2 separate regions of the Homo sapiens genome follow, and region 2 is linked to region 1. The links come from fine-mapping of genetic effects on gene expression. Tissue or cell type: whole blood. Region 1 holds a variant in brackets; the other region holds the start of a gene. All regions are shown on one strand. Distances are from middle to middle.

Region 1 (8,104 bases):
ATTACCAGTGAGGCTAAATTTATTCCAATATCAGACAGTTTCAGTCCATCTTAGGCATATTACATCAATTACTATGGTGTCCCTAAGAGCACAAAATACCCCAGGGGGGGTTCAAACCAGCATAGATTTCAGAGGCATCTGCTCAACGGGTCTCAGCTAAGTGGTTAACGGTCCCCACAGGGTGCTGCCCAGCCACCAGGGCCTAAAATGTGCTCAGACTCCAGACATGGAACAAGACTGTCTGGTTAATAGCACATGTGGCCCAGCCACCCCAGTGTGGCATTTACAGCTCTCTGGTTTCTGTCAATGCTGCCCCTGCTAAACTACATGGCTGTCTAGTCTGCACTAAGTGCAAAGCTGGCTCCTGTGCGGGGCACCTCACCCACGCCCACAGGAAAGGCTGCCTTGATTTGAACCTCTCCTTGGGGCCTGCAGGGCGGGGTGCCTGTGTGTAAACACACGTGTGGCTTTTTGTTCTCCTTCCTGCCGATTATTTTAAAGCTAGGAGTTAAGTAAGATTCAGCTTGGTGATCAATTCACTCATGATGCTGCCTAACCTGTTGCTGTTTTATAAACTCAGGAAATTCTTCTCATTGATGGGTCTCAGTGTTGAGGGTGTGACAGGCCAGCCCCCTCCCACAATGCTGTGCATGCCTGGAGGAGGGGATGTGGCGTGGCAACCTCAGCTGTGTCCCGATGACCAGCATCCCTCCCCCTTTCTCAGGGGAACTGCACCTCTATTCTTCTTGCCCAAGTCCATCCACGACCCGCTTCCTATGCCCTACCACCAGCCTATGGAACAGGCGGAGTTCCAGACCCCGGTTCAAGTTCCCCACTGCCAGGTGCCAGATGAGTTATCTTCTCAGAGCCTCAGTTTGCTCATCAGTAAAATGTGGACAATAAGAATACCTACCTCCTAATGTGGTTGTGAAGGTAAAACAAGAGTACCTCCATTAACATCATCTTGGAAATGACAGCATGTAGAGCTGATTTCGTTTTTATTTTACAAATACTGATTGTATGGCCAGTTGGATTCCATTGTAATCATGCTTCAAATATAAGCGAGGCATAGGAAAACTTACAGAGAAATTATAATTATTGGATCTGGCTGCCCCCAGGACTTTCTGTGGCTTCGGGTATGGGCCCTGATGCAAGATACATGATCACTAATATTTGCTGACTTGAATTGAGCTAAGGTGGTCAAAGCCAGTGTTTATGAACCGCTGAGTTCCTTTCAGCTTGCAATAGCTCAGTGGTGCATGACTCAGTGGCTGCAGCACGTCTTTTATTCACTCATTCAGGAAGCACTGATGAGCTCAGATGTCAAGTCTTGCGCTGGGGAAGGCCCAAGAAGAGCAAAAAAGGGCACTGTTGTTGAGCTGTTTATCATCCAGAGGAGAACAAACACCCACATATACTACTGTCCAAAGCCAGTGGCCAGAACATATATGATGATACACTCTGACCTGCACCCTCTGCAGCAGTCAGCCCAAGATGGTCAGGATTTGGCCGATGACTGCCAGCTTCCCAAATCAACCCTTGGGTTCCCTTTCACAGTCCTCTCATAGCACATGCTTCCATAAAGGTATCACTGCTAATGGTGAGATCGCGAGGCAAATCCAGAGGAGATGCTCTAACCACTGAGCTGTGCTGCCTGGCCTGGGAGGAATGAAGAAAGAGAAGAAGGAAAATGAAAGGAGAGAAGAAGAAACCTAAGTCCTAAACACAGAGTGACACATTCTCTCCCACAAAGGTTATGAACAAGCCACATCTTCCTTACACTAAAATTAACTCATTCTAGCCTGTCAAGCTTCAGTGTGTTTGAATCACCTAGGAGGCTCGTTAAACACTTGGATCCTGGGACCAACCCTTAGAGGTCCTGAAACCGACAGTCTGGGCTTGGGCCTGGGAATCTGCAATTTTACCCTAAGTTCTCAAAGTCCTTGAACCTCAAAGCATGGTCTTCAAACAGCATCTTGGCTATCACCTCCGATAGTCGCTGCACCTGCCAATGCAAACTCCCAGGCCTGCCCTTCAACCTATTAAATCGGAATGTGTACTTAAAGGAGATCTCTAGGTGTTTTATGTGCACATTAAAGTTTGAGAAGCCCTGCTTTTGGTGATTCTCATTTAAGAAGTCCAAATACCACTTGGAGCTTAATAAATAATACTAACAATGAACTAGGCAGTATTTGGAGTGCTTAACGCGTAATAATTCATTTATGAGTCAAAAGAATTCTATGAGGTAGAGTCGTTTATTATCCCATTTTACAGATGAGGAAAATAAGGCACAGAAAGCTGAAGTAACTTGCCAAAGTCTCAAAGCTGGCACGTATGAAGGATGAGGTTGAAACCCAAGCTGACCAGCACCTGCCGCTCCCACTTGCCTGCTGAATTCACCTGGAAATTGACAAGCCCTGCATCATCCTGGCTGCCTTCCTGGGCCCTGACTTCTCAAACAAGGCGATCAGCAGCTCTTCAAAATCAACAAGAGCTGCACTGCTCTATTGTCCTGTGGCCGAATAACACATGCAAATTACATTGATTCTCTGGGAAGAAAATGGCTGTGTGGGTCTGGGCAAAGTTATTACATTTTCAAACTCAACCAGTTTAGAAAAAATAATTGTGCATACACAAAGACATGCTAGGGGCTCAAATGAGCCCTGCAATTAAATCAATTCATTGCCTCAAATCTGCACTGGATATTAGGTTGGTGCAAAAGTAATGGCAGGAAGAAAAGCTAGGGAAGAAACTTAAGAAAATTGCAAGGAAGAGAAAATATATTTACTATTCATCAAATGGAAGTGGATCGTTAAAAAGATCTTCACCCTCTCTTCATGTTGAACAGGCTGACTAGGAGGAGAAAAGGGAAGGGTTGGTCCTGCTGTCTGAGCAGTGGCAGAGGCAGAGGAGGTGGAAGGAAGGCAGGTGAGGCAGGCACACTGAGTGTAACTTGTGTTGAAAAATATCCTTGTATAAGTGGACCCATGCAGTGACTTAATATATTCCATAAGGTTCTGGGGCAAAAATGATGGCAAAGCAGGTAAAGAGCCACTCATAGTGTCTTCCACCCAGAAGAACTTGTTTGGAGACTTTTGTGCCCTCTGTCCTCTGGACTGAAACTATTTTATAAAACCAAGCTATGTTCTCTGAACTTAAAATGTCAAAACATTAAGAAAACCTGTACAGCAGGACTGATTGCTTCAGTGTGCCTCGCCTCTGCCTGTAAGCGCCCTTCTCTCCAGGACGTTGCTTGTATTTGGTGGCTCTGTTCTCCCACCATTGCTGCAACTGAGTTATTGGGTAGTCATGTTCCCAAGTGAGATCAGGCAAGGCTGGAAAAGGCAAACTCAGCAGCGGAAGCTTCGGGGCTTTCTGATGGATTTTTAAGGATATGAGGACTTCAGAACCTTGGAAGGTTTTTGGTTTGGTTTTGTTTTTCCAGTTCCATGAAACAAGAAAGACAACGACAATCAACGGAGATGGCACGCATGCAGCCAGGAACAGAACGGACTGAGTCCCAAGGCTAGAAAAGGATCTCCCCTTGATCAAAAAGGATTCTGTGTTTGTACATTTCAGCAGAGAGCCAGCTCCACTTCCAAAAGACAGAGAGTGACAAAATGGGCCTCTGAGCAGCCCTGGGCCTACCCATCAAGGCTGAAATCCATTTGTCTTGGGTTTTGGCAAGGCACTCTGGCAAAAGCAGCGGCCAGGCAGCCAGAAACACAAACCAGAAGACCATGCTTTGAGACAGGCTTCAGAGGGGCCGACTGAGCTCTAGCGCAATGTTTAATAAAAGATAAAGAGCTCATTGCAGTACTATTTATAATAGCAACAAAAACTTGGATGATCAGCATAAGATTGGCTAAATACATTTGTCTATATCTCTACAGTGAAAATTAGATTTTCAAAGAATATCTAACAACTTAGAGAAATACTTATTCAGTTGACACTTGAACCATGCAGGAGTCAGAGACACTGATCCCCACGCAGTCAAAAATTTTCACAGAACTCTGGACTTCCCCAAAACATTAACTAATAGCCTAATACTGACTAACACCTTACTAATAGCCGAGTAATACATATTTTTGTATGTTGTGTGTGTTATATGCTATATTCTTACAATAAAGTAAGTTAGAGAAAAGAAACTGTTATTAAGAAAATCATGAGGAAGAGAAAATATATTTACTATTCATCAAAGGGAAGTGGATCACTATAAAGATCTTTATCCTCTTTTCATGTCGAACAGGCTGACAAGGAGGAGAAAAGGGAGAGGTTGGTCTTGCTGTCTTGGGGGTGGCAGAGGCAGAAGATGGGGAGGAGGTGGAAGGGAAAGCAGGCAAGGCAGGCACGCTGGGTGTCACTTGTACTGAAAAAACTCCTTCTATAAGTGGACCCGCGCACTTCAAACCCATGTTGTTCAAAGTTCAAATGTCATATAATGTTAAGTGAAAAAAAAAAAAAGCAGGACCCACAGCACAAAACTATTCTGTACAGAGATAGATAGATACATA[G/C]ATATAGATATAGATTGTTTTTTTTTTTTTGAGACGGAGTTTCACTCTTGTTGCCCAGGCTAGAGTGCAATGGCGCGATCTTGGCTCACCACAACCTCTGCCTCCCAGGTTCAAGCGATTCTCCTGCCTGAGCCTCCTGAGTAGCTGGGATTACAGCCATGTGCCACAACGCCCAGCCAATTTTGTATTTTTAGTAGAGATGGGGTTCCTCCATGTTGATCAGGCTGGTATCAAACTCCTGACCTCAGGTGATCTGCCTGCCTCTGCCTGTCAAAGTGCTGGAATTACAGGCATGAGCCACCATGCCTGGCCAGATACAGATATATTTTTAAGGAAAAATACTGGAAGAGTAATCAGCAAACGTTAAAAATGTGAGTAGATTTTCTTTCTTTCTCGTATCTATCTGCATTTTCTAATTTTCCATAATATACATACATTCTTCTTATAGACAGAATAAAAGGAATTTATAATTCTTATCATTATAAACCAAAAATACATTGCTGATATTGTTTCCTGATACAGTAAATATAATAACAGTTACCATTTATCGAGCACTTAGTATGTACTTTAGATAGATGATTCTATTTTACAGTTACAATAACCACAAGAAACAGGTACTATTATTATCTGTATTTGCTTATGGGAAAAGAAGCATTTACCATTCAAAAGTTAAATGTCTTGCCTGCAGCTCAGTTACCACTTAAGGGACAGAGCTGGGTTCCAAGGAGGATGTCTGTGGTGTTAATGTCCATGCTATTAACTCTGAAGTAGCCCCAGAAAGTGAGACCCAGGTAGGGTTGCCAGATAAACTGCAGAACACTCAGGTAAATTTGAATTTCAGGTACACAATAAGTAATTTTTTTTTTTTACTGTATCATGCAATGTTATTCATTGTGTAGCTACATTTCTAATTTAACTAGGCATCCTGTTGGTTAGTTGGTTGGTTTTTTAATTAGAGAAATGACTTATTTCACAAATTGCTATAGGAAGGGGTTGAAAGTAACATAGCAGACCAACAGTTTTAGGAGAAGTCAGGTTCAGGCCCCAAAGCTAGCTAGCTATTTATTTATTTATTTATTTATTTATTTATTTATTTATTTAAGACAGAGTTTCACTCTTGTTGTCCAGGCTGCAGTGCAATGGCATGATCTCGACTCACTGCAACTTCCACCTCCCAAGTTCAAGTGATTCTGCTACCTCAGCCTCCCAAGTAGCTGGGATTACAGACATGCACCACCATGCCCAGCTAATTTTGTATTTTTTGTAGAGATGAGGTTTCTCCATGTTGGCCAGGCTGGTCTCGAACTCCCAACTTCAGGTGATCCGCCTGCCTCAGCCTCCCAAAGTGCTGGGATTACAGACGTAAGCCACCATGCCTGGCCTCTTTCAATAAGATCTGGGAACAGTCAGCCCCCAGACAAGCACAGAGAAAATATCTATATGTCTTGGGTTCCCTTTTGTTACACCCTCCTATGAAGGAGAGGGAGCTTTCGCTAATACAAATTGGATGCCTGGAGCAGACAGCCCCATAAAAGTGAGGGATGCTTGTGATTTGAAGACTCCACCAAGCAATATTGCTGAGCACTTGAAAGCCACACTCCAGGCATGCCCACACTGGGTGGTAACAGATTTCCGAGTCTCCTCTATGAAGTGACTTGTCTGGCTTTGCTGTCAGTAGTCAGAGTAAGAAGTGCCTCACAGCCCCCATCCTCAAGTCCTAGCCCCAGTCCTGGGGCTCACTGTGACAACCACACAGTCTTTCACATCCAAACTTAGACCATTTGGCTGGTCTATTAGGATCATCTAGGGAGTTTTAAAAAATACTGATACCTGGGCCTTTCCCCAAAAATTCTGATTTATTTGGCTGGCCGGTGGTGGGAAGTGTGGGTATTTTACAGCAACTCCCCAAGTAATTCTAATGCCCAGGCAAGGGTTAAACATCACCGCACTGAATCAACCACAATAAACCAGGTGCTGGGATACCCATGACAGGGGAGAATGTCACATTCATCTGTCAAACTGAAATACGAAAGTAAACCTCACCGGGTTGCTAAAAGGATTAAATGAGCGGCTCAGTACATGCCCTGCACAGAAAATACTTGGCAAGTGTTATTTCTTTCCCAGAATCAAACACACTCACTGACATTTATTGAGCCTTTTTTTTTCACCCAGACTTATGTTATCTCATTTAGTCCTCAAAACAGTTCTATAAGGTAGAGATCATCATCGTCTCATTTGTAAGATGAGAAAACTGAGTCAAACAAAGGTGACCTCATTCCCAAGGTCATCAGCTAATAATAGTGGAGCCAGGACTTGAACCCAGGGCCTTTGACTCAGAACCCCACGCTCTCAGTCCCTTCCCTGTATTGTCTTCTTGCTGACAGAGCCCTGTAGGGCAGATGAAGCCACCTACACACCACCTCCCAGCCTTTGCCCTGACCGTTCCTTTGCCTTGAATGGCAATCTCTTCTCTGCCTCTGCAAATTATAACCTGCCGAGGAAACATCCCGCTCCTTCTGGGCTCTTGCAGACCTCACGGTGAGTGCTCAGTCATCCATTCATTTATTCTTTCTCTGACTAAGCAAACATCTATTGAGCACCTACTGTGTGCCAGACACTGCGCTAGACACTGGATATAAACACTAGAGAGTCTTTGTTGGGCCTGCCATTCCGGGATGGAGACCAAAAATAAACAAAACAAACAAATGTATAACTGCACATTGCAGAGATTGCTCTAAAGGGAACTGGGAGCTTTAGCCTGACCGTGAGCACAGAAAACCATGGGGTGGTTTTAAGCAGAGGGTTGGTGTGACCAAACTTGTTTTTCTGGCTGCTGTATGGAGGATGGATTGGCTCAGGGGTGAGGGTAGAGGCAGGGAGGCCAGAGAGGAGGCTAAGGGAAGAATCCAGGTGAGACGGGAAGAGGACTGGCTCAGTGTGGAGGTGGCCTGAGAAAGAGGATGGACATCTTCCAGAGAAGCAGCTTGCTGCCCATCAGATGGGGTGGTGGGGGGGTCATTGCCACTTGCTCTAGCCCTTATGACAGACATTCTGCAGCATTTTTTACTGTGGCTTGTTTCATGACTGTATACATTGCCTCTGGAGTAATGTTCTGAATATTTAACCATCGGTGTCATGAGGGAGAGGCCAGTATTGACTAAATCAGAACAAACTGTGACTCCAGCTTTGGGCAGCATCCCCTGCTGGGCTAGGCATTAACCCTTTAGTTGCTGGATATCAGTGAGGTCCAAGGGATCCCAGGTGAACAGCCTGGGTGGAGGCAGAGGACTCTGGGGGTTTAGGATGACACTATTTGTCAGCAATATTAAAACCAAACAGCACATGCCCCCTCAGGATGCCTCCCTACTCGATTTTAAACTTCTAGGAAGCAAGGCTAGACTTAAGAAAATCAATTAGCTAGAAATTTGTCCAACAGGTATCCCATCCCTTGCAAAGACCTGGACTTCCCTGGGAAGATGTCCAGGCTGACATTTCAATTTTGCATTTCTGCAAAGAGATGCAGAGTCCTCCAGAATCAACCCCTGAGCCTATGAGGGCTACATGTTCTGTGAGCCCAGGACTCAGGAAGA
Region 2 (8,104 bases), 170 kb after region 1:
GGTTGTGTACTGGGTATCTGTTATATTCTTAACAGCCCATCTTTTGAAAAATATTTCACTATTTGGGAAAATCCCACATCATGAGTTCTGTCTTCCTATTGTAGATATCAAAACACAAATTCCCAGCCTCTCTTGCAGCTAAGATGTAGGCATGTAATTAGACTCTGCCTACCAGGCACCCTCATAAGGCTTGACTCAGAAAAGAATAATGTAGTGACTCTGTTTCTCGACACATGGACTGTGGCTGAAGTGTTGGGCTTTCTGGGAGAGTTGGGGGGGCACGTCAAGTGAAACTGGTGAGACTGTAGTGGCGTTTCCTCCGGTACTTGATAGGGCAGCACAACATAGACACTGTTCTCCTAAGGCCAGTTTTGTGCATGATTTCGGGCATCATTCCTAGAAGTACAGCCTTGAATCTGTCCCCAAAATTCTCAAAAGCACCTCCTATCACTTTAGTAAACCTTTTAACACTTAGCTAGTCAGCTTCTCTTGCCTGTCCCCTGTGACAACCAGGTTTATAGGAACTACAACTGTCTATAACTTTAGGACTTCAGTCTTTAGAATATGAAATTGTTCCTGTGTGTCGCTATTTGTTTCCTGCTATGTATCAGAATCAGTTGTCCCTGGAAGAAGGAGATGAAAAACACAGGCCAGCCATCTTTGTTCTCCACTCCAGGTCACAGTCATTTACCTCCATAACTCGTTGGCAGGAACAGTCATAAGAGACCTGCTTCATCTTTATAACAGAAGGGTATACCATACTTTAAGTATACCTGTTCAAAGAATTAGTTACAATGTTTCACAGTTAAAAAGTGATGACTAATTTTGAATTTGTTAAATACCACCCTCTTATAATAAAACAAGATTCTATATCACAAATTGCAAACTGGTAAGTAAATCTGGTCTACAAAGGGTTTTTGCTGGCTTATGATACATTTAAGCTTTAAAAAAAATGGTTAACAGAAATACAAAGATTTTATAGTTGTATCTGTGATTTCTGCCATTCTTAAAAAAACAACAGCAGCAATTGATGATTATAAGCCTGCATGCAGCAAGCAGGAGGTCACAGGCCCCCTTCTGACAAGCCATTAGTTCATCTGGCCACTGATAGGCACTCACAAATCAAATTTTTACTTATAATGTTGTTGTATATATTGGAAGTTGGTGAGACTACCTACTATTTTATGAAAATGTTAAGTAAACAAACATAAAAACATTTTACATTAGTATAAAATGCTGGAATAAAAAAACATTAAATCAAAAGAGAAAAGGCAAATTAAAGGGGGAGAGGCAAAGGGTTGGGACTTTGACTTGAAAATTCCAAAGCAAGTCAAACCATAGTATGCAATTTAAACGATGTGATATGTGTGCAACATAAGGTGGACCCTGAAGTTAACTTTAAGAAAACAGTAGCAATTTATAAGAGACACTGACAGACTACAAAGGTGGTTTCCTTTATTTTGGTAAACTTTAAAGATCTCGGGAGGGTGTGGTGGCTCACGCCTGTAATCCCAGCACTCTGGGAAGTCGAGGCAGGCGGATCACGAGGTCAGGAGTTCGAGACCAGCCTGACAAACATGGTGAAACCCCCTCTGTACTAAAAATACAAAAATTAGCCAGGCGTGGTGGCGTGCGCCTGTAATCCCAGCTACTCAGGAGGCTGAGGCAGGAGAATCGCTTGAACCTGGGAGGCGGAGGTTGCAGTGAGCTGAGATCGCACCACTACACTCCAGCCTGGGCAACAGAGAGAGATTCCATCTCAAAAAAAAAAAAAAAATCTCATTTTGATACTAATTCAAAAGGCCAAATAGAATGACCCTCTTTCTGAATAATTAAAACAATTTACATTTTAAACATGTATTTCTGTAGGATGTATTCTATCATCTGAAATATTAATAAGATCCAAGAATTTCTTAACTGAACAGTAAACAGATCCGAAGTATATAATCTGTGAAAATGATTTAGAAAGCATTTTGACTGGGGGAGGTGGAAAATAAGGACATGTAAATGATCTGCAGTTTAAAATGCAAAATCCTGTCACGTTACATCTCACATGTCCAAGACATCCTCCGTGTGCTGAAAAAAAAAATGATGGTTCTCAGAAACGGTATAATCCATTAATAAGTCATTCATCCAATACATAACAATTTTTAAAACTCCTTATAAAAAGGAGTCCACGTATTCACAGATACTGTAGAATCCCCAGCTCCTATGTATATTACCGAAAAATGCAAACAAGTGTATCTTTGAGGTATTATGGCAATCCACATCTTTCTCATCAGACTATACCAGTCACCTCAGTACTGTGGAAATGTTCCATCGATTTTGGCAGCCCAGGCCATGAGGCCCCCCACAACATCCCGAACTGTTAAAGGGTCTAACTCTTGAGCTGCTGATAAGGACTGGAGGATCTTCACGGCTTTCTGTGAGTCATTTCCCAGTTTGCAAATCACATAAATGGGGACAGCAGCCCCTTCTTGTGTGCCCTGCTTCTCTTCCCAGATTGCTTCTTTTAAGAGTTTCAGGCTCTCCGCATCCCTGCGTTCCAAATGTTTCAGAGGGATGTGTAGGGCATGAGGCAAACGACAAATGTCCACCTCCACCTGAGGCCTGACGTCCAGCAACAGGTGGAATGCCCCAGAATCCAGCAGTCGCTTATAGTCGGTGACAGAAACACGCTCCTCTGGGCTCAGTAGTTGCAGGGAGCGGCATTTATCAGTGGCTGAGGAGCCACAGAAGGCTTCATAGTCCAGCAGATCAGTCACAGTGGGCCGTTCCCCGCAAGCTGCACAGTCGAGCCTGCGGCTCCGCAGCCGAATAGAGCGGAAATGCCCTCTCAGGGCATCAAAGAGCAACAAGCTGCCACTGTAAGAGGGGCCCAGACCCGCAGCGATTTTCAGCACTTCCAAGGCCTGCAGGCAGCCCAGGACCCCGGTAACGACACCGAGCACCCCGCCGTCCGCGCAGTTGGTCACTGTCTCCGCTGGGGGTGGTTGGGGGAATATGCAGCGATAGCAAGGGCCACCGTCATAATGGTAGACTGTGATTTGGCCCTCGAAGCGCAAGGCACTGGCAGACACGAGGGGCCGACCCGCCAGCACACATGCGTCATTAACCAGGTAGCGAGTGGGCACGTTGTCCGAGCAGTCAGCCACCACATCATATCGGCGGACCAGGTCTAGGGCAGTGGCTGGCGTAAGGGCCTGAGTGTACGGCACGCATTCCACTGCCGAATTGAGGCGGCGCAGCGAGGCGGCGGCCGAAAAGGCCTTGGCCTGGCCAGCCAGTGCCTCGCCATGCAGCACTTGGCGGGCCAGGTTGCTCATCTCTACCACGTCATAGTCCACAAGGCCAAGGCGGCCCACGCCGGCCGCTGCCAAGTACTGCGCTAGTGGACAGCCGAGCCCACCGCAGCCCACGATTAGCACGCACGCGGTCCCCAGGCGCAGCTGTCCGTGCACGCCCAGCTCGGGCAGCACTAGCTGCCGGCTATAGCGCAGAATCTCATCTCGGGACAGAGCGGCCTTCGGCGGCAGCGGCGACACCGGAACCAGCCGTTCTGGCTGCGGTTCCTGCTCAGCCAAAAGAGCCGACGCCAGCTTCTGCTTCAGCGAATTCAATTCCTCCTCACGTTGGGCAACTTCAGCTTGTAAGGCGAGTACCTCCTCCCGGGAAGCCATGGCGACCTCTTCCGGAAGTTGTCGTGAAAGGCATTTCCGCTTCCGTCTTCTGTCTCCTAGCGACTGGGATAAACTAAAAAACTTTATGGAGCTTGGGAAAAGGTGATGAATAGATATTTACTTCCTGAAGAAACCTTCAGATTAAACTTCAAAGATGTATAAATCCAGAATATTTCTAATTGAACCACGCAATGGCCCTAGAAGAACTAGCGATCAATCACACAGGTCATCCCCCGCTTCCGAATTTGGTACGGTCCGACCCGTCCTTTTCCGCGCCACATTACGTAATTCCGCTTCCGGCATCTGGCTCAGTTCCGCCATGGCCTCCTTGGAAGTCAGTCGTAGTCCTCGCAGGTCTCGGCGGGAGCTGGAAGTGCGCAGTCCACGACAGAACAAATATTCGGTGCTTTTACCTACCTACAACGAGCGCGAGAACCTGCCGCTCATCGTGTGGCTGCTGGTGAAAAGCTTCTCCGAGAGGTAGCGCACCAGGTCTCCCTCCCCGAAGAATGAGATGAGCTGGCTTCCCCGGCCCGGGTGTCGGCAGCTGGCTGCGCGAAGCGGCCCTGTCCAGCCTTCTTTGCCTCACACAGGAAGGCCCGGGGAGAGGGCCACCCTGCGAGGGAAGCAGAGGCGGATGCTTGTTGGGTTTTCTTCGTGTCCTGGGTTCTCATTCCTGCCCTTGGGTTTTGTGAGACTCTCATTTATCTTTATTATGTAGTACTCCCGTCCCCCGCCTTTCCGTAGAAAGGTTGGCCACTCTTTTACTTGGAAGCGAGGCTGAAAGCGTGATCCCACTCCTCCCTCTAGGCGGTCAGGATCTGCGGCAAGAGCCGGGAGTCCAAGCGAGAGCTCTCACTCTCCGCTCCGGTGCCGAGTGCTTACATAAGCATGAGGTTTGGTGTGTGTGGGTTAGGGAGCTATTGCTGGGCACGATAACCTTTCTGGAAAGGAGAAAGCAGAAGAGCATCTTCGCTGATCACTGGTGGATGTTTGGTGTGATTGTTAGAACCGGGATGGGGGGTGGGTGGAGTTCGAATTTGGAAGTGTTAATGCAGTGTTTTTAAAAACTGCAAAAAATCCTGGAGTCAGTACGAAGTAACTTGTTTTACGATTGCACAAATGGGATCATGCTGTGAAATCTTTGAAGACTTTTTCTCATATTAACATGTACAAACATAGCAAATTACTTTGGAAGTTAGGTAACATTCCATATGGCTGTGTTATTTATTTAATCAGGTCATGGCAATGAACTGGATTATTTCCAGCGCCTTTTGGTTGTTTCTGTTTTTTGGCTTTTGCTTTGTCGATGAGAACAAGGACTTTGTTCACACCATATTTTCCAGCTAAATTTAGAAAAGTGCTTGACACATAGCGGTGCTCCTTTATTGCATCAGTGTTGGCAGCAGACGCGTTCATACTTTTACTTGTGTACTAGGGATAAATTCTTCGAGGTAGGATTGCTGGGTCGACAGAAATGTGCTTAAAATGGACAGTTACTGCCAAATTGCTCTAAAGAAAAAAAAGGTTGTACAAGTTTGGACTCTCCATTCTTCAGAGTGCCTGTTTCCCTATCAACCAGCCCGCCTGAGCATTAGACTTAACATTGTTGGAAGTACTCATTTGTGAAAACCATTGCTGTTTTGATTGTATTTCCTTGAATAACTGCCTTCATATGCCTTGCCCCTCAGAGTTTTAAAATTTTTATTTTTCCTGTTTAATCTTTTAATTTTGATTTCTATAAGCTCTAAATTAAAGAAAGTAACTATCATACAACCGATCTCGTTCAGGGCTTGTATTCTAATTTTGCAATTTTTTTTTTTGCTGTTTTAATTTTTTTATGTAGTACAATTTATGTTTCCTTTTAATGGTTTGTGAATCAATCTTTTAAGATCAAAATGAAGTTTGATAAAGGAAACAAAACTTTTCAGATGCAATCAAATTACTTGAAGTCAGCCCAGCTTGGTACCTTTGAGCTGCCTCACCCTCAGGTGGTGTAGCTGCTTTGAAGTGGTAGGGGACAGTAATTTGCTTTTAACGACCCCATTTTGTTTATGGAATTTCTCTTTCAGCACGTCTATTAAAATCACCTTACATATTTTGGCATGTAAAGGCACCAGTGCCCAGATTTAAGGCACAGTGGGAAGCCAAAGTCATTGTTCTACTCTTGGAGAATAGATAACACAGGGGTTTGCTTTCTTGTCTTCAAAGTTTGCTGGGGCTGACTTGTTAAAGCCTTTAACAGTGGAATATGTTTTCTGGTTGATTTTCTTGTATTTGTTTCTTTTTTCTTTTTCTTTTTTTTTTTTTTCTTTTGGAGACGGAGTCTTGCTCTGTTGCCCAGGCTGGAGTGCGGTGGCGCCATCTTGGCTCACTGCAGGCCCCGCCTCCCGGGTTCTTTTTAGTAGAGACGGGGTTTCACTGTGTTAGCCAGGATGGTCTCGATATCCTGACCTCGTGATCCGCCTGCCTCGGCCTCCCAAAGTGCTGGGATTACAGGTGTGAGCCACCGCGCCCAGCCTCTTGTATTTGTTTCTTAAAGCAGGACCAAGAGAAAACGGAATGTTATGTCGTAGGTATTATTTATCCACCAAGTATTGTGTTGGTTTGTTTTTAGACTAGAAACTACCACCTGAGATTAATGGGAAGTAACAGATGTTAATTCTGAAGCACAGTGGAATCTTTTGTAATGCTACTCTGCTTTTGTTTTTTTAATTTGATAATGTGAGGTAATAGGCACAACTATTTGAAATTGTGGTTTAAGATAATGTCACCATTCTAAAATCGGTTTTTTTAAAGATGAAATTAAATCAGATTTATACTTGATTATTCTATTTGGATCAGATTAACAAGAATAATCACTGAGTTACTCAGTTTGGTTTGAGTTACCATGTAAAGTACTTTTGAAATATTTTATGTAACTAAGATTTGCTATTAAGGTTCAGAATATTATTTCCAAATAGGTAATAAAATTTCATATGGCTGGGCACGGAGGCTCATGCCTGTAATCCCAGCATTTTGGGAGGCTGAGGCGGGCAGATCACGAGGTCAGGAGATTGAGACCAGGCTGGCTAACACGGTGAAACCCCGTCTCTACTAAAAATACAAAAAATTAGCCGGGCGTGGTGGTGGGCGCCTGTAGTCCCAGCTACTCCGGAGGCTGAGGCAGGAGAATTGCTTGAGGCCAGGAGGCAGAGGTAAGCCGAGACTGCGCCACTGCATTCCAGCCTGGCAACAGAGCAAGACTCCATCTCAAAACAAAAAAAATTCATATGATACATAGGTCATTACGTGATTTTCTTTTGAACTAAAAAGTTTGTTCTCTGTGTAGGAATTCTTTAATATCTCAGGACATTAGCATGTTTCAGCAACATACTGGGTTTGGAGGTAAAGTACTAAATGTTTGACATTTATTTCATTTGATAATTGAAGTTTTCCTCAACGATTAATATAGCAATACATCTCCATTTATACTTTTAAGGAATTAGTAATTTTTAAATTACTTTTAAATTTGAGAACACTGTCATCAGTCATTAATACAAATTTAATTTTTTTAGTGGAATCAACTATGAAATTATAATCATAGATGATGGAAGCCCAGATGGAACAAGGGATGTTGCTGAACAGTTGGAGAAGATCTATGGGTCAGACAGAATTGTAAGTTATAAGAACATTTTTCTGTGATATGAATTGTGATTATGTAGGGGAAAGATGAGACATGAACAATGCTTAAATTCAATCTATTTGTTTAGAAACTGAAAAGATAAAGAGCAACTTACGCATTTGGGATTTAAATGCATTTTTGTTGTCCGTAAAATTTTACATATCTTTGGTATGTTGGGTCAGTGGTCATTTTACAGCAAAGAGTGAGCTTTTGGATGAACTCTGTTTATAACTAATTCTGCAGATAAATTTTCTTGAAGGGCAAAAATTAAAGCATGATACTGAATTGACAAGGAATATTATATAATTGGGTTATAATTGGTAGTGTGTGTGTGTCTTAATCTTTCTTGCTCCCTTTCGGTAAGTATTCTCATGCTTTCATTAGAGAATACTGCCTGAAATTAAGAGCGTGTAGGTAGAAAAAGTTACTGTTTTCTTGTGAAACATTAATGACTTCTTAGAGTACTTGGCATTTTTAGTCTATAGAATAGTCTTGTGAAAGTAGATTGACTGTATTAGTCCTAAACTTTAGATTCACCCACTGTACCTTGAAACTTGTTATTCTAATATAGAAGTTACTTAGGCAAATATAGAGTTTATTTTATAATGGCTTCATGAATTTTATTTTTGGTTACCGGTTTGTATTTACAAATGTTTATGTATACTCGAGCTCTTTTATAATTTATATTCACAAATTATTGCAGACCACAGTTTTTCAGTCTTGGCACTATTGACGTGTGGACAGATTAATTCTTTACTGT

Alleles and levels. Positions count from the first base shown, and alleles are read on the strand shown. Sizes are in standard deviations (SD) of each study's normalised expression.
In carriers of allele C in region 1, the expression in whole blood of the gene that starts at base 3,991 in region 2 tends to be lower than with G alone (large effect, 0.83 SD a copy in Lepik 2017).

The links. PIP is the estimated chance that this variant, and not a neighbour inherited with it, causes the effect.
Region 2: it holds the start of DPM1, and the variant in region 1 is fine-mapped to the expression of DPM1 in whole blood (Lepik 2017, PIP 0.95).

What each region holds. Positions count from the first base shown.
Region 1 is chr20:51,121,574-51,129,677 of GRCh38, reverse strand. The region is part of intron 1 of LOC105372661 (a long non-coding RNA gene); the gene reads right to left. LOC105372662 (a long non-coding RNA gene) reads left to right here and starts at 4,802. Exons shown (of 3, transcript XR_001754668.2): 1 at 4,802-4,885; 2 at 6,899-7,052. The variant G/C (reference allele first, on the strand shown) is at 4,515.
Region 2 is chr20:50,954,419-50,962,522 of GRCh38, reverse strand. DPM1 (dolichyl-phosphate mannosyltransferase subunit 1, catalytic) reads left to right here and starts at 3,991. Exons shown (of 9, transcript NM_003859.3): 1 at 3,991-4,160; 2 at 7,238-7,337. The coding sequence starts at 4,000. It overlaps MOCS3 (molybdenum cofactor synthesis 3), which reads right to left and starts at 3,705. Exons shown (of 1, transcript NM_014484.5): 1 at 1-3,705. The coding sequence starts at 3,680. The coding sequence ends at 2,298. RefSeq lists enhancers at 2,922-3,532, 3,745-4,234.